Regions from separate parts of the Homo sapiens genome. Here region 2 is linked to region 1. A link means that fine-mapping ties the variant in region 1 to the plasma level of a protein whose gene starts in the linked region. Region 1 holds a variant in brackets. A gene starts in the other region. All regions are shown on their forward strands. Region 1 overlaps IGF2R (insulin like growth factor 2 receptor). Region 2 holds the start of CTSO (cathepsin O).

The links. PIP is the posterior inclusion probability: the model's chance that the variant is causal. Protein levels are from antibody-based Olink assays in UK Biobank. Linkage for the fine-mapping came from a reference panel and not from the study's own genotypes, which makes the PIPs less certain.
Region 2: it holds the start of CTSO, and the variant in region 1 is fine-mapped to the plasma level of the CTSO protein (UK Biobank, PIP above 0.99).

What each region holds. Positions count from the first base shown.
Region 1 is chr6:159,982,471-159,990,470 of GRCh38, forward strand. All of the region lies in intron 1 of IGF2R (insulin like growth factor 2 receptor), which reads left to right. Among named protein-coding and RNA genes, the nearest start is that of IGF2R, 17 kb to the left of the region's middle. RefSeq lists enhancers at 609-848, 5,026-5,600 and silencers at 727-1,021, 2,027-2,321. The variant CT/C (reference allele first, on the strand shown) is at 4,270.
Region 2 is chr4:155,953,502-155,964,403 of GRCh38, forward strand. It overlaps CTSO (cathepsin O), which reads right to left and starts at 365. Exons shown (of 8, transcript NM_001334.3): 1 at 212-365. The coding sequence starts at 346. RefSeq lists an enhancer at 1,476-1,770.

The DNA of each region.
Region 1 (8,000 bases):
TTGCTGTAGACTCAGAGAAACATTTCTCTAGCTAGTGACCATGTATCTTGTTATGTGAATTTCACTTATGTGTCACCAACTGGGTTTCTGTCTTTTAAGGAAACCAAATTACAGATTCACACGTGCCTACTTTTATTATTACTGATCCCATCCTGCCTTTATCTTGCTTTATTAATTGCAGGCCAGTAGTAAAATGTTTAATAGTTACATGACCATTAGCATAACCCCAAGATTCACAGGGACTGAGGAAACTAAGATATATTTTAAAAGAGTTTGGATATATGGCAATAAATGAGGAAGGGACAGAGTGATACTTCATGGAGATGTTTTGTGTTGAAGGGAAGGAACCCAGTTTTCTAAGATTTATTTTCTTTAAGAGATTGAGCATACCATATATTTTGATCATAGAATTTTACATACTTTAGATGCTAGCTGTTTTTAAAAGGAAAGAACTCCAAATTACATCTTGCAAGCTATTGTGGTTTTGCAAGCATTGAGTGATGGCATATATGAAAACTCTGAGAGGTGTCATATTAAGATACCAATGTCAGTTTAAAGATATTCTATATCTGTATCCCTATGACATTGTATTTTGAATTTTTTATTTTTCATTTTTGGACAGACATTTAGAACTCACTCAGTGGAGATGGCTCTGCATCTCTGTTTTAAGCTTTTTGAACTCTAGGCAGCTGTGTCGGCCTGGGGCTACATTGACTTCTTCATTGCAGCCCCTCGATTGGTTTCGTCTGGACCAGGGTGGGTTTCGATTGCGGCCCTTGCTGGAACAGTAGCAGGAAAGTAGAAACACCTTCCTGTCTCTGGGTTAACCAGCTGACAGTCTGTTACTTGTGTGCTTCCTTCTAATTGGTAATCTGCCAACACCTTTCAGGATATTATGAAATTTCAAGCAAATGAGGTTAAAATGGAACCTCTGTACTTCTGAACAGGCGTGGACTGACTGCAGTTCTCCAGGATAGTTTCAGCAGAAGCAGTGAGATTACAGTCAGGAGCAAAACAGTATCTGAGCTTTCTTTATGGGAAAGATTCCGACTGTGTGCTTGGTTTATATGGTTAAATTAATTGCCCTTGTTAAATTAAAAAAATAGGGTATGTTTCTGCCACAGACTTTGCTTTAAAAGCAGAGATCTTCTAAAGTCATTTGCCTTGTATTTGACTTCTGCTGCTCCCCGTTTCCTGCTGGGCCTGATGGTTTGATTGTAGAATGTTTCTGAGTTGTGTCACTGTTGGACTCTGCTGAGCTGAGTAGTCTCATTAAAGGAGAGTGTGCATCTGAGTTGAGGAAGACAATATAGATGTGGACCTTGTTTGTAGAGTTCACAAGCTGCTTACATAGAAATAGCAAGGACAGTGCAGCCAGTGGGAAGGAGCCGGCTGAGGGACTTGATATTATTTCCATGGAAACCAGTTGGGTATGGGAAGAGAGGTTGTGGAAGGCAATGCTCTGGTGTTTGGCAATTCACACTGTGCAGAAGAGAAAGCAGAACTGGACTGGGAGTATAGAGTAGCAGAAGTTTAAGCTTGGGGAAGAAGTTGAGCAAGGAAAAGCATATGATCTGTTGATCAGCATGATGTGATGTGGTCTGAATCTTCAGACAGTTCACAGCTTTTTCATAGAGGCTGTCCTCAGATGGGTTCAACCATTCTGAGAATTCTGCCTTTACGATATAAGTAGTATCCATGACATTAAAAACGAGAAGAGAAGCGTTTTGGCCAATGACGGACTGCATAAACTACAGTCTGCATAAATGACCTTGGTCCTAGAAGATTAGGATGAAGCTGAACAATTCTTATCACCTAGTGATGCTGTAGCCATTGTAATGTCGTAGCACAATGCATTAGTCACATGTTTGTGGTAATACTGCTGTAAACGAACCCACTGCGCTACCAGTCTTATGAAAGCGTCCAGTCAGGTCCTAGGCCTTTAGGTCCACTCACTCACTGACTCACCCAGAGCCGCTTCCAGTCCTGCAGGCTCCATTCATTATAAGTGCCCTAGGCAAGTGTGCCATTTTAATCCTTTATACCATATCTTTGCTGCACCTTTTCTACGTTTAGATATGTGTCACATGTTACAGTTGCCTGGGGTATTCAGTGCAGCGTCATGCTGTGTGGGTTTGTAGCCTGGGAACAATAGGACATACCATATAGCCTAGGTTTGTAGTAGGCGACACCATCTATGTGTGTGCAGATACACTCGATGATGTTTGAGCAGTGACAGAATTGCCTCATGACACATTTCTGATGACGTATCGCCATTAAGTGAGTGACTATAAACCAGTCCCCCCATCAGCAGTTACACTTCCTGAGGTTTCAGTTACCCATGGTCACTTGCAGTCTGAAAATATGAAGATATTTTGAGAGAGAGATGCCACATTCACATACCTTTTATTACAGTTATAATTGTGCTATTTTATTATTAGTTGTTAATCTTTTACAACTAATTTATAAATTAAACTTAATCATGGGTATGTATGTAAAGGAAAAACCATATCCGAAACCGTATTCCTGGTTCCAGGCCTCTACTGGGGGTCTTGTATCTGTGATTACAAGGTGCTGCGAAGGGATAACTGTAATTTTTCTATATGACTAGCATTTTATTGAATCAAGTTGTGTAGATGGTTGGCAATATAATAGGAACTCAGAGATCTTTATGCCATACAGAGTCTGTCCTTTTAATGGCATTTATTGTGACAAGATTTAAACTAAAGTTTTGTGGAATGTTTTGCCAGTTTTTGTGTTGTAACTGAAACTAAATGTTTTCTGAAAAGTTAAAACCATTTCTTTAAATGGAAAATAAATGAAGCCGTTTACCTAATTGGTTAAGGACTCACCCGTGGGCCTCACACCGCCTAGGTTAATTCTTCACTTTATAATTCCGTGATGTTGGGCAAGTTCCTCATTCTGAGCCTTGGGATATTTGGCTTCAAAGCTGAGGAACTTGGGAGGGTTGGATAATGGCATCACGTTCTGTGGGGAGATTTGGCTCACATGTTAGCTGTGTGGGTGAGAGCCGTGCTGTCATGCGTTCTTAGCCACTGGCCAGTTTCCTTCTCAAGCCATCAGTAGAGATGCTGATCCTGCATCTGCCAGTCATTGCTCCAGGAGGGAAGACATTACTGTCCCAGAGTGACGGTGTCATTGGGGATAACAGACACTTCAGAAAATGCCACCACTGAGCTGTATGAAGTGCCATGGCAGCTAGTGCTGGAGCTGTGGATTCAGCCGGGGAGCACTGTCTGGAGGAGCTGCTGCAGCACATGTGTGTCTCTCCAGCTGTCAGGCTGGCCTTTGGAGTGCATTTGGATTTTTTGAGAATGAGAGAGGGACCATTGGCTAACTGTTTTACGCTCTGAAAAATGACATAGAATAGCAAAGATTTTACTTATTTTTGCTGATTTTCTAGAACATTTTCTGTCCCAGAGTGATGGTTTTGAAGAACCAGCGTTCTTGGAAAGATGGTTTTGCATCCAGAAGAGTGATTTTAACTAAAATCAGGCTGCCTCCCTTGAGGATGGTCACTGAATTTTGTACAACTGGGACAACGGACAGGGATCCTGGGTTGTTTCCAGTGGACAAGCCGCTTCTGTGGGGGCCTTTGCAGTTCTCCCCGCTCCTCTCCTGTGTCCCGCTGGTTTCCTTCAGTTGAGATGGAATACAGCATAGAGTCAGTGACTTTTAGAAGACTTGACAGAGTTTCAGGAAAATGCTCACTGGGCTTTCTTACCTATCCTGCTGCAGAACTTTTTTTTTTTTTTTTTGAGATGGAGTCTCACTCTGTCACCCAGTCTGGAGTGCAGTGGTGCGATCTCGGCTCACTGCAACCTCCACCTCCTGGATTCAAGCTATTCTCGTGCCTCAGCCTCCCGAGTAGTTGGGACTATAAGCGTGCGCGACCATGCCTGGCTAATTTTTGTGTGTGTGTGTGTGTGTGTGTGTGTGTTTTTTTTTTTTTTTTAAGTAGATTCAGGGTTTCACCATGTTGGCCAGGCTGGTCTCGAACTCCTGACCTCAAGTGATCCTCCCACCTTGGCCTCCCAAAGTGCTGTGATTACAGGCATGTGCCACTGCGCATGGCCTGAAGTTCTTTCTTTCAGAAAATGTATTCAACACATTCTTTTGTGTGTGTTTGAGTGAAGACGGTGTTTCCACACAGCTTGCAGATACTTTCTTCCAGAAGCTTGTTTGTTGCTAACATTTAACATCTTACTGTTACAGCTTAGTTTTCTCTTTGATTGAATATATTGATCT[CT/C]TTTTTTTTTTTTCTGTTGGCTTTTTTCTTAAGTCTTTACTTGTGTAAGCTCAGATAACTTAGTCTAGAATGTAGGCTTTTTCTGGGAATCTCAGCTGAATGGTTTCATTTGCTTGGCTGTTAAATGAACCATACTGTTTGGAATAGTTTCCTAATTCTGGCTGTACATGTTCACTTCAGGTAGAGAATTTTCTAACAGACAAACTTTCAGACAAAAAATTTATTATTCCTCAAAGATATCATTACATTTTATTTAGTCTGTAATAATTTTATTGCTTCTGAAACCATTTTCTAGTTCTATAATGTGATCATGGTGCTTTTAAACTTTAATATCAAGTTAATTTTAAGAATGATTTTAGCTTAGGCCATTCTAGGGGCTTGGCCTTTAATCTGAAAAGAAATTTAGAATCCTTTAGTTTCAAACATGTGATTTCTTAAAACTTGTTGTCAGTTATTTATACGATTTTCAAGTTTATTATGAAATAGTCTTTAAAAAATATTTACTTTAGTGGAAACATATCTAGTGATAGTTTAACCAGGGTGCATACCAGAGTACATAATAGTTTTTGGAATATTCTTCATAAATTTTCAGAGAGATTATTTAAACCACATGACTGTTTCTGAGCTCCTGTTGATACTAGGGGCTAGGCATATTCGTTTTTTCTTTTTGAGACAGAGTCTCGCTGTGTTGCCCAGGCTGGAGTGCAGTGGCACAATCTCAGCTCACTGCAACCTCTACCTCCCAGGTTCAAGCGATACTCCTGCCTCAGCCTCCCTAGTAGCTGGGACTATAGGCGTGCACCACCACGCCCGGCTAATTTTTGTATTTTTAGTAGAGACGGAGTTTCACCATACTGGTCAGGCTGATCTTGATCTCCTGACCTCGTGATCTGCATGCCTCAGCCTCCCAAAGTGCTGGGATTACAGGCATGAGGCACCACGCCCTGCCATTAGTTTGTTTTAAAGGAGACATAATGTCCGTTGAAACATCAGAATGTTTTAAGTACTGACAGCTTGCAGGTGTCTTTGGAGTGAAGTTTAGAAACCTGCTGTGACCATTCTTCATTTTAAAGCTGTGACTAAGAACTCTGAGATATTGGTGCCTTCGCCTCAAGTGCTGCTGATGGGTTTGAATGGCATTGAGGTTGCCAGGCCTGGAGGAGGGCTGCCTTGTGCTGAGTGGTTAAATCACCCCCCTGAAAAAAGTCAGTGTTTCAAGTATTTTAATAGGCTCCTCCTTTCCTACTCCCATAACCACTTACATTTGATAAATCTTGACAAAACAAGTATGAAATCCAAGTAGAGAAAATAATATAATTGAATAGAGCAACACTTTTCTTTCTAGCAACCCTGATTTCCAGATTATCAGGACAATATCCCTCATTTTATTCTTTTTTAAATCTTGATTCTGCTCCCCAAGCAAACACACTCTTTACCTTATTTAGATATCCCCTTTGCAAGAATGGTGGATTTCTTTTAAGAAAAGCATAGCAGGCCGGGCGCGGTGGCTCACGCCTGTAATCCCAGCACTTTGGGAAGCTGAGGCAGGCGGATCACGAGATCAGGAGATTAAGACCATCCTGGCTAACATGGTGAAACCCTATCTCTACTAAAAATACAAAACATTAGCTGGGTGTGGTGGTGGGTGCCTGTAGTGCCAGCTACGGGAGGCTGAGGCAGGAGAATGGCGTGAACCCGGGAGGTGGAGCTTGCAATGAGCGGAGATTGCGCCACTGCACTCCAGCCTGGGCGACAGAGTGAGACTCCGTCTCAAAAAAAAAAAAAAAAAAAAAAAAGAAAAGCATAGCATTTTAGGTACGTGTGGATCTCTTTAGCGTTGATTCCTACCAGTTAACTCATTTTAAATGACACCCTCATGCACCAATATCATATACTTAGGATTGTGAAATAGTTTAATGATGCCACTGCCGCTACTTGAAGTTTGTCTCTGTTATCCTGGAGAAACTAGTCATGGCTCCTGAATAAGAGATTAGCATTTTTCCTGAGTAGTAGCCAAGTCTTTGTTTACTTGTTTATCTTGTATCCTGCAACCTGGAATATACACTCCGAGAGGGCAGGGCGTCTTTGTTTTGTTCATTGCTGTACTCTCCTGTGCCTCCCGCAGTAAGTACTTAAGAAATACTTGTGAAACACATGAATAAAGGTTAACGAAGGGCAAAGGAAACAAGCCTTTATTGATGATTTTTCTCTGTGCCCAGTAATACTTGGGTTATTTTCTCATGTCCTTGAGTCATCTTGACTCTAGGAGACACCTCTTAACATGTTCCTGCTGAAAAAGCTGAGCTGAGGAGTCATACCCCGAGGGTATCACCCTAAGATTGGGCACCTGAGTACCCCAGCCTGCTCTTCAGGTCTGTAGCTGCTTAGTGGCTATCAGACCTTCCAAGTCTCCATGCTTTTGAAGGCCTATGTGTGCGGTTTGGTTTCTTGGCAGGGGGGTTTGATGGGTTCCCAGACCTAGGAGTTCTTGGCGCCTCGTCTTCCAGTGACCCCACCAGGGCTGCTCTTTCTCCTCCATTGCTGAAACTAGTTCAGGGTTGGGGAGGAGGGCACGTGGGGGGGCCTGGTGGTTGGTTTTGTGCTGAGTCATTGCCTTGGTGCACTGTGGAAGGAAGCTCTGGGAGGTGGACGGCTCCTTCTGTGAGGGAGTGCTTCTGTCGTCAAGGGAGTACTGCATAGGGTGAATAACACAGTTATGTAGATATATATGGTGGTCTTACCCCCAGGGCCTCCACAACTCCTGGATGGGCCTAGCCTAAGCAATTCTGATTTAACTTATTGCCCCTCCTTTTAGCAATACTGTTGAGTTAAATAACAGTTTTTGCATTGAAAATAAAAAAATTTTATTTTTGTAGAGATGGGATCTTGGTATGTTGCCCAGGCTGGCCTGAAACTGCTGGCTTCAAGTGATCCTCTGGCCTTCGCCTCCCAAAGTGCTGGGATACAGGCACGAGCCACTGGCCAGGTCTTTATTTTTTGCATTTTGCAAGGACATTTTAAGTCACTTTCTTCCTTTTCTGTTTTTACTCCTGCTGAGGAGATGATCCCCATTTTACAAAATGGACAAAACATTCTCCCCAGGGAAGGGAAGAGTAGACATTTGAGAATAATTGTTTTCACAGAACCGGGAAACCACCTATTTTGTCCCAAGTATACTGATTGATGCATTAGCAATAACTCACTATCTGCTTTGCCAGAGGTTTGAACAATGAGTGTTAATGCTTGGTGTAGTGAATTTTGTGTGATTTCGAATCTGATAGCTGACTCATTGCACAGCTCTGTCTTGCGAGTTCAGATCTGAACTGTAGCTCTAAGAGGTAAAAGCAGAAGTGGAGCTGCCTTTCATGCCATAGCTAGTTTTTTAATAAAATAGAGTTAAAAAATCCTTTGGCTTTTCAGCATTTTGGTGTGATTGGAAAGGCTATTACTATCTTATATTCAGCATGAGTCTTGAGCAATTACTGATTAATATGATTTGGCTGTGTCTCCACCCAAATCTCAGCTTGTAGTTCCCATAATCCCCATGTGTTGTGGGAGGGACCTGGTGGGAGGCAATTGAATCATGGGGGCGGTTACCCTTATGCTGTTCTCGTGGTCATGAGTGAGTTCTCACGAGATCTGATGGTTTTATAAGGGGCTTTTTCCCCTTTTGCTCCGCACTTCTCCTTGCTGAAAAAGAATGTGTTTGCTTCCCCTTCTGTCACGATTG
Region 2 (10,902 bases), not on the chromosome of region 1:
TTAGCAAAGGCATGGGGGAGTGACACCATGGCACAAGGAGAGGGGAGAGAGAAGCTGGCTTTTGCACCCGCAGCTCAGGGCCCCAGACGCATCGCAGAGCCACGGGTGCCCACGAGCAGGGTCAGCTCTCGGGGGCCCTCTTCCGCAGCCCAGACCCGGGACAGGAAGTGAGGGAGCAGGGACAGATCCCGGGGAGGCGCGCGCTCGGTACCCGGAAGGCGGCGGCTTCACGCTCGCGGCTCCGCGGCCAGGTCGGGGTGAAGGGGGCGCGGGAGTCCGCATCGCCGCCGCCCCGGCACAGCAGCCACAGCAGCCACGGCAGCCACGGCAGCGCCCGCACGTCCATTGCGGCGCCCGGCTCCTCTGCCGCCCGCGCGGCCTGTTTTCTCTTTCGGTTCCTCGGCTCCTCCCAGCCTGGGCTCGAGGGGCGGAAGGAGCTGGGTTGAGTGCACGATGCTGAGATTGACCCTTTTTTAGGTCCCCGGTGTTCTGTGACTGAAAATCCGGTCAGCTGGAGGCTACGGACCTCCTTGCTGAGGCTAGTTTTTTTGTTTTTGTTTTTGTTTTGGAAGAGTCAGGCACTTGACCATGTGCTTTCGAGGTTTCACTTCCATCCATTAGAAAAAAAGAAGCCTGAGAGTCATTCTTTTGTGTGTGTTGAGATCAGGTCTCACTGCAGCCTCGACCTTCAGGTTCAAGTGCCTCCTGCCTCAGCCTCCGGAGTACCTGGGACTACAGGCGCGTGCCACCACCCCAGGCTATTTTTGTATTTTTAGTAGAGATAGGATCTTGCCATATTGCCCAGGCCGGTCTCGAACTCCTGGACTCTAGTGATCCACCCGCCTTGGCCTCCCAAAATGCTCACAGGTGTGAGCCACCTGGCCTGCCCTGTGAGCCACCGGAAGCTGCCTTTTTCCTTCTTGCCACAATCCCTAAGTTCAAGACCTAGTTCTGAAGTGATGTGGGCCAATACATAGAGTCATCCATTCAGCAGATGTTTATAAATACGTAACAAAATTGTACAGATGTGAAAAGCATACACAGTTTTTGGATCTATTATGGCAGTTTCAAAACTCTTGAAGCCTGTTTCTCCGTTTGCAAAGGAAGATAGAGCCAAGTACATAATTTGCAGGGTTCCGTGTAAACTGAAAATGAAGTTCCCTTGTTCATAAATTGTGAAGAATTTCAAGACGGCAACAGCAGAGCATTAACCCAAGCCATGGGCCTTCTAAGCACCCACTTCTGCACAGGTCACACACTCATGAACCTGGCTCTACCGAGCCTTTCTATTATCATCTATTCTGAACAAGGCTTCCATGTCTGTGAAATTCATATCATTACCCTTGTAGATTTTTAGAACTAACATCAGATTTATGTCTTTAGTTTTTACCTAGGTGCAGTGAGTTACAATATTCTCCAATGCAAACTTCGTAATAAAAATAAAAATAATGTTCCGAGTATTAAGAGGAAAGACACAAGAGTTTTTTATGTACGTTCATGATAAGATATATTGCTCTTGGCAAGTGTGGTGATAAAGATTTTATTTAAATCATAAGTTCACAGAACGATGTTCATGTTTACCTCAGCAGTTCTTTTGTACTTAGCCCTTTTTTGTGACTCATACAAGCACATACTTTTCTTTTTAAACTGAACTTTGCTTTCAGATCATAGTCCCTGTTTATTGACAACCTACGGAGTCAGGAAATTTAAATATAGGCAGTCATCTTTACTTTAGGATAATTGGTATTGTAAAAAAGCCCCTTGAACTAAACTCATTTCAGGAGCTCACATCAAGTATTTATTGAGTACCTGCTAAGTGTCAGGCATTCTTCTAGGTAATGAGGATATATCAAGTAAGTGGATAAGTGACTAAAGGGATGAAAATCCCCATCCCTATGGGACTGATATTTCAATTGATTTACATCAACAAATATTTTATTGAGTACTTCCTAAGTGTCAGGCATTGTTCTAGGTCATCAGGACACATCATGGATGGAAGTGCATAAGTGACTGAAGAGATGAAAAGCCCCACCCTGTTGAAGCTGGTATTTCAGTGAGGGGGAGAGACGCAATAAAATTACTACAGGTTGAGGATCCCTTATCCACAATGCCTGGGTCTGGAAGTGTTTCAGATTTCAGATTTTTTCCCCCCAGATTTTGGAATATTTGCATATACATAATGAGATCTCTTGGGGATGAGACCCAAGTCTAAACACAAAATTCATTTGTGTTTCACTTATGCTACTGACTGAAGGTAATCTTACTGACTATTTTAGGTAATTTTATGCATAAAACAAGGCTTTGAATGCATTTTGACTATGACCCACCACATGAAGTCAGGTGTGAAATTTTCTAGGTGTGGCATGATGTCAGTACTCAATAAGTTTTAGATTTTGGAGTATTTTGGGTGTTTGGATTAGAGATGCTCAACTTGTACATGTGTTAAAGGACAATAAATCCAGATAAGGAGCATCATCAGTGTGAGGGGTGGTACTGCTATTTTAAATAAGCTGTTCAATACTGTCCTCACTGATGAGGAGAGTTTTGAGCAAAGATTTGAAGGAGAAGAAAGTGAGCCACATGGATATTCAGATATCCAGGGAAAGAGAAGCTAAGACAGAAAGAACTGTCAACACAAAGGCCTTGAGATGGAAGTTTGCTTGGCACGTTCCAGAAACATAAAAGACGTCAGCATGGATGGAGTAAAGGAAAAAAAAAAGGATGGGGGAGAGTAGAATATGAGATAAGTAAGAAGCGCACAGATTGTGAAGAATTTTGGGTCAGTTAAAAGGGAGATCAGAATCATCTATTAAGTAGTAAAACAAAGTTTTTGAAAAGTGGCTTGAAAAGTGAAGGTGGCAAGTATCTGCTAATTCTTAGAATAAACACTACAAATTACATGTATATGTAGAGATGTGTTTTTTTCATCAAATTTGCAAAATAGCACATGGAACTTCCCTCAACTCTGTATTAGATATCTATTGCCATGTAAAATATAACCCTCAAACTTAGCATCTTAAAAATACGAATTTTTCTTATCTTAAACAGTTTCTGTGGACCAGGAGGGAGCAGCTTATCTGGGTGGTTCCAGCTCAGAGTGTCTCATGAGGACGCAGACAAGCTGTTGCATATGGCTGCAATCTTCTGAAGGTTTCCCAAGTTTAAAGGATTCAATTTCAAGCTCATGTGGCTGTTAGCAAGAGTCCTCAGCTCCTCTTAGGCCTTTGGACAAAATCCTCAGAACCTTATCAGAAGGCTGGGCTTTTCCTGCCAGCTCTTTGTTCCTGCAGAATGAGTGAATAGAGAAATTGAGACAGTGGACCAGGGAATGACTGAGGTGGGAGCAGCAGTGTCTTTTTATAACCTTATCTTGAAACATATCATCTCTTCTGCCATTGGTTACACAGAGCCAGTCTGGTAAGATGTGGGAGGTGGAGCTGACATAAGGTGGGGTCATCAGGTGCCATCTTGGAGGCCCGCTACCACAGCCTCATGTTGAATGTTATAAGCCCAGTAACAAATGCAGTCATTTCTTTATGTGTGAAAATACTCCAGAGCTAACCATTTTCACAAATACCTCTTAACCTTTATGATACACAAATCAATATTTACTGTTGTTTTTATCCCGTTATGCACCTTCTGGGTTTTCTTCCATTTTTAATCATGCTACTTCATGTTTCAGTGACTTTGCTACGGAATTATTTTGTTTCTTTGTTTTTTTTTTTTTTACCTTTTTTTTGTTTGTTTGTTTGTTTGTTTTGTTTTGTTTTGAGATGGAGTATCTCTCTTGCTCAGGCTGGAGTGCAGTGGTATGATCTCGGCTCACTGCAACCTCTGCCTCCCGGGTTCAAGTGATTCTTCTGCCTCAGCCTCTCAAGTAGCTGGGACTACAGGTGCACACCACCATGCCCAGCTAATTTTTGTATTTTTAGTAGAGATGAGGTTTCATCATGTTGGCCAGGATGGTCTCAATCTCTTGACCTCGTGATCCACCCGCCTCAGCCTCCCAAAGTGCTGGGGTTACAGGTGTGAGCCACTGTGCCCAGCTGGAGATTTCTTAAAAAGCTGAAAGTAAACTACCATTTGATCCAGCAGTCTCACTACTGAGTACCTACCCAAAGGAAAATAAGTCATAATATGAAAAACACACATGCACACACATGTTTATAGCAGCACAATTTGCAATTGCAAAGATATGGAACCAACCTAAATGCCCATCAACCAATGAGTGGATAAAGAAAATGTGGTATATATACACTGTGGAATACTAGTCAGCCATAAAAAGGAACGAAATAATGTCTTTTGTAGCAACTTGGATGGACTGGAGGCCATTATTCTAAGTGAGGTAACTCAGGATTGGAAAACCAAATATTGTATGTTCTCACTTATAAGTGGGAGCTAAGCTATGAGGATGCAAAGCGGAAGAATGATACAGTGGACTTTGGGGACTCGGCGGGAAGGGTGGGAGGGGGGTGAGGGATAAAATACTACACATTGGGTACAGTGTACATTGTTTAGGTGACAGGTGCACCAAAATCTTAGAACTTATCCATGTAACCTGTACTCCAAACACCATTGAAATTAAAATTAAAATTTTAAAAAGTTGAAGCAACAAATAATGTAACAAAATGCCTATTCAAAATGACAAAGTAAACAATAATGGCTTCTTTCTTCTATCAAGTACATTTGAGGTGATGACGGTCCTGAACCATCTCAGGGAACTAAATATTTAATAGATCACTCTCTTAACCCAATAGTTATTGGAAATTTCCAAAGGAAACTTATCAGTATAGATAATTGATAGAAAAACACACAAACAATTCCACAGAGGACAGGGAAGACTGCATCGTTAAGAGAGTAGAATTACATGCCTCACAGGCTATCGGGGTGAGGTACCTGACAGAGAATGTGTGTCTAGCCTTGCACAAGCCAAGCAAAGTGTGGATCTGCAGGGAGAAGTGGCTGGCCCTCAATGAGCTGAGTGCTGGGCATTAGTCAACTGCTGATTCAGCCACAGATGCTAATCAGAACATCCAGAGAAGAAACCGGGCTGTATACTCCCCAAGAAATATCAGATGTAGAGCCAGGATTGGCATGGACCTCAAGGACACAGGACAGACCTGAGGGTCTATTCCCTGTGCCCCCTCACAATTCCATACATGTCCTTGCACTCACACATCAAACACTGTCTAGAGAGGAACATGGTGGAGAGCTGGAGAGCAGAAATAACAGACTGAAGTCTTTCTACTGCCTTGTGTGGGAGCTGTGAAGACGACGTTAGTTACAAAGTTGTAGTTGGAGTAAGTTTGTGACCACATCACAGAGGAAAAAGCAGAATCTGCGTACACCTAATGTTTGTGCTTCTTGCCATTTATTCAATTCTATTGTTTCTCAGGCTTTTGTTTCCCATTTGCAACTCAGCACTGATGAAAATTTTTCCCTTTACCCTAAAACTGTTAGCCTGAATTCACGCCTGAAAACTGGCAAGAGGACCTACCCTACATTGTAAAGACAACCATGAACCATTCCAACCAGACACCTGCAGAGTCAGCCCCATGAAAAGAGGAACCCCTCCAAGACTATACTAGGGGGTGCCCCAGGAGGGGAAGAAAAATTGGCCAGTCGTCTGGGAATTACAGTGTTAGTGGAGAGTATTGAGTCCCTCATCCTCATCTAAGGAAGAGGCACTCCCTTCTCAATGCTCAGGTTTACTGGCAGCAGGGAAGATTCATGAGAAGGGAATGAAAGATGGTGGGATTATCTGCAAAAAACGGAAAAAAGGGAAGCCTGGTATTCTGATTTGCATTTAGATGCCTGGTTAGGCCACACTGCTGCTTTTCTCCTTATGCCCTCCTGAACAGGGGAAAAGGCGAGATGGAGAGAGGGGAGAGGAATAAGGCAGGGGGCACCCACAACTCTGGCATGGAAAGGAAGTGTGTTTCTCATGAGTCAAGTGGAACCCTCCAGAGGGAGTTTCCACTGCATGAGGGGAAGCCAGTAGCAGTGGGCTCAGGGTGGACTATGAGGGTCTAGGGCTGGAGACTGGACTAGACCCAGGTTTCTCATCTCAGAGAACTGTGCCCCAGGAGCCCAAGGAGGGCGTCCCATGGACCACACACATGTGCTCAAGGACAGGGTCAGCACGGGGGTCTGCCTGGAAGAAGGCTGGACGGCCAGTCAGTGAGAGCTGGAGGGGCAACAATGACCCGGCCTGGGAGCCCTGCAGCTGAGTCCTGTTAAACAGTGATATCTTCCTGCTCCCCACAATCCAGCCTCCTGCTCACTATTATCCAGGGCTCAAAGCTGTCAAGGGCATGGAGGAGATAGGGAAAAAGCAAAACATGTCCCTTTTCTTCGCTCACTTCACAAGCATAGCCAGAGATGGCAGAAGGGAAAGCTTTGAATTAGATATGAGACTGGAATTTTAATATGCACAAGACTGAATTCTAATTTGTTAATTCTAAACAGAAAGATATTCAGAAAGTTCTAATATCTGCCCAAGATGACATTCAAGGATGGGAAAGGGAATTCAAGTGATATGGGCTGAGAGTAGTGACTGAAAAAATAGAAAGCCATTTCATTTTTATAGCCTCAAAAAACTGCTTTCACAATGAATGTGGAATTATGAAGTTAGATCAGAATAATGGAGACGATTTTGTAAGGAAAGCAGAAAGAATGCTGACACTTATTGTACAGACATTAATAGGTAAGTAATTTGCAAGGGGTCTATGTCTATTACCTCATTTAATTCCTACAGTGAACAGTGTATTACTCTCCTCAATTTAACTGAAGCCGAGAGAAATTAAAACTTGCTCAGGGACACAAAGCTAATGAATGATAAATCTGATATTAAATATAGGTAAATACAGTGTCAAAGGCAGTACTTATTCCACTTGTACTCTACTGCCACCAACTGTGGTGGACTGTGAGACATTTTTCATACTAAAACTTCCATTGTGTCTGCTTTAATTATGTCTAATCTAGTATGAAAAGACACTTTATGGTAATAGTATACTTTAGTTGAACCTGTCAATGGTATATGATGATTCTTTGTCAGTTCAAATACTAATTCCCTATTTTAAAACAAAAAGGTACAGTTTTGCCTTTACTGTGAGTTTCCTTTGTTTGGGTGGTGTACTTTGGTGCCATGGAGATGATATTCGCAGACAGATGTTAATGCGTCATTATAAACACTGCCTGTTCTTGCTCTCTCATGAAAATGAAGAGTTCTGTTAGTATTTCATGGAACATCGCCACCTGGATTTGACTCAAACCTTCTCTTTTGACACGTTTTCACTCTGAATGACTAGTTTCCTTTTTGTTTGCTTCTGGTTCAGATTTCGGAGGTCATATTTCAATGTCCATTGTGAAAAGTGAATGGTGGGAGAAGGAGGAGGCAGAATGTAGGTTGGGCAGAGAAGATGGCCTTTTAAAAATGTTTTTATGCTGGAGACTTTTAATAGAACAATTCTGACAGCAAGCATTGAGTGAGTGGTTTATTCAGATATTCCCATCTGAAGAATTCCATGATCCTAAAAACACAGATCAATTTTTCTGATATTTATCTACTCCCTTAGCTTCCCCAAATTTGATAATTGCCCAATTTTGAGAGTGAATATTTGACTCTGTGCTCAATATCTGATTAAGTCTTACTAGTGCATTTGTGTTGAACCTAAGTCTCAAATGCCTCTTCTACATTCCGTATTTTATTACCCTTCTGTTTGGAACCAATCAAGGACATTTTCTCTTACACTACAGATATTCAGTAGTTTTATATCTTAAGAACTCATATGCTCTTAGTCATAACATTTATATTCATTTGGACCTTTTTTTTTTATTTGACCTGGGATTCATTCCAAGCAGTAAATAGCTGGTCTTATAGCCGTAGTCTCTCATCAACACCCAGAAAGGCATCTCTGAGTTGAAGAGGAAAAAAATGAATAAAACAAAAGAGGGGGTCAATATAGACTTTATTAATAATGTATTAGAAATCAAGAGGTTGAATTAACTCACATCTGTACTTCAGACCAATTAAAGGGGGGAAAGAAATGTAAATAAAGTCTGTAATTATACCCGGAAGTTTTAAGGTAAAACTTTAGAAGGCATACTTCTAACATTCCATACAAGTCTTACATTTTGATTCTGTGTTCACAGTTAGACTCTAACTGGAGGCCTGATGAATGGATTTATGGAGGCAGGAGACCAGCTTAAAATATATATATATAATATATACACACACACATAATATATATTTAATATATAATATTAAATATAATATATACAATATATTGAATATAATAATATATAATACAATGTATATTATATAAAGAAATATAAATAAATATATATATATTTATGAGACAGGGTTTCACTCTTTCACCCAGATGGGATTGCAGTGGCACGATCTCGGCTCACTGCAACCTCCACCTCCCAGGCTCAAACGATCCTCCTGCCTCATCCTTCTGAGTGGCTGGGATTACAGGTATGTGCCACTACCACAGGGCTAATTTTTTTTTGTATTTTTAATAGAGATGAGGTTTCACTATGTTGGCCAGGCTGATCTCAAACTCCTGACCTCAAATGATTCACCTGCCTCGGCCTCTTGAACGACCAGTATTACAGGCTTAAGCCACCGAACCTGGCTGAGATCAGCTTAATCTTATCTGTCCTTGTTGTTTTTGTGGCTGTCCTTCTTATTATAAGCATCGGTACTTCTATCTTTCTTTTCCATTCTATCTTTACGATGGTATAGGAACAAATGCTTTATAAAACCCAATGAACAAGAAAATCATCCAAATAATGACGCAGACTCTGCTTTATTGACAAAGAAGGTGACGTTCCGAAAGGAAGTCATTGGTCAGAAGACCATGCAAAATGAGTTTGCTCAAAATATTGAATGCCACGTATTGTATGAATGTCTGAATTTGACAGATGGGAGGTGACTTAGAGTTGTCAATACATAATATATACAAGTATAGTTTGTATGAAAGTTGAACTTCAGAAAATTTTAGTCTAAATTTTACATTTGCATTTTACCACATTAAGTCTAGATTTGGTGGTATGTGTAGAGGAAAAAAAGTTACAAATATCCCACCTAGATTATCTTGAATGCCTCTGCTGTCAACTTTAAGGGCGACTTGTGGTGCTATTCCTGACCTAATATCTGCAGAAGGCTGCAGGCTATGGCCATCGTGGGCTGGTGTGTATTAAAAGAAGCTGGAGATCGTGAATTGGTTAATGCATAGTTGGTTGGATGAAACTGCTTAAAAGCAGCTATTTAAATTCACATCACCAGTCAAGTGACAATGTGAAAGGGGTGATTGTATTATCTTTAGCACTTGTTTACTCTTTTTGAGGTGAAAGGACAGGAGCAAACGCCTGGATTCACTTTTGAAAACGATGGTAGCTATCAAGTTCTCTGAGTATTCCTATAAGCCCTCCCTTCCAAGCAGTATGTCCTTCCTACTGAGTGGTTATTTGAAAAGCTCAGTGAGGAAAAGCTCTTTGAACTGTATTTTTTCTTTTCAGCTGAATGAGAACATCTGAAAGTCCATCTCCCATTTTCTTTCATTGACACTAACTCACTTTGACAGTCTGTACCCAATAGAACTATATATCACAATGTGAACTAGAGTTGGCCAGACATTTCAATGCTTACCAGCCCTGAACTCACAAGGCCATTTTTAGCTTCTAGTTTGTTTGTAGACTGCTGTTCAAGGTAAGCTCCTATGTAAAGTGACTGCCTTTGTTCTTCATGAAATTCAGTTTTATTTCTTAGGCAATATAATTTTTTGTTTTTTATTACATTGCAAAACACTTTAGGACTCCAAGAAAGTAATTTTGCCTTATTTTCCATTCACTATTTGTCCATTTGTAAGTTTATGACAAAACCAGATGTCCATCACAGCAATGAGAATCAGATACTTGATGAATACATATAAATTATGCACATAAAACTAGGTGCAGTTTTGTCCATGAAGTACATGTTCACTTGAGGCTTCAAAGAGTTCTGCTTTATATTCATTTAAATGAATGGTATAATTTTTGCATGATTTTTCTTGATACTTTTGAAATTGTTCCAAACTTGAATCCATTACTATTAGATACTGTTTATACCATGATAATATAAAAGTTAGAATTTTGATTATATATGTGTTACTTCATCTATTGCTAGAGGAAATAATTTCATGGCTTCATAACTTGGTGGAAGAAATTACATTTGAAACATGCAGCTTCTATTCCTGTTTTGTCCTGTTCCTAATTACATTATGACACTCTATGTGTTCCCAATTTGAACAAATAGCTGTAACCTGATGAAGCCATCTCTGTCTCTATTTTTCAGTGCCTAACATTTGGGTATTTATTGAATGCTTTGACTGACTAAAGCATGGGGACTTTGTTATAACATGAGCTTTTAGTCTAAGCAATTGTTTCTAAGCAAAGCCCTTAAATGTATTCTTTAAAATACTTCATTTTATCTTAATGGACGAGACACTGTTTGAGGATAAATAATTCTTGCTTTTGAGCATTTTATCTTCTAGTGAGGAATAAGCATGTATACACTCCAACATAATCTGTGCAGCACTGTGTTATCAAGAGGTAAGAGAGTGTGGGAGGGCGCAGGGGAGGGAGAGATTGTCATAAGACTCTTCTAATTGAAGAGAGTGTAACATATCCAAAAGATAGTTAAGAACTTGACACACAGAAATGAGGTTGAGGAAGGAAGTGGGTGGGGCACCACAAACATCGCAATGGCTTGGAATAAAATTCAAACTCCTTTCTTTAGCATCCAAGGCCCAGATCAGTGATTTTCCTCTTTGGCTGAAGGTCAGAATCCAACTCATGAACTCCAAAATCTGACGCCTAAACTTCATCCCCAGAGATTCTGATTTATTTCAAACC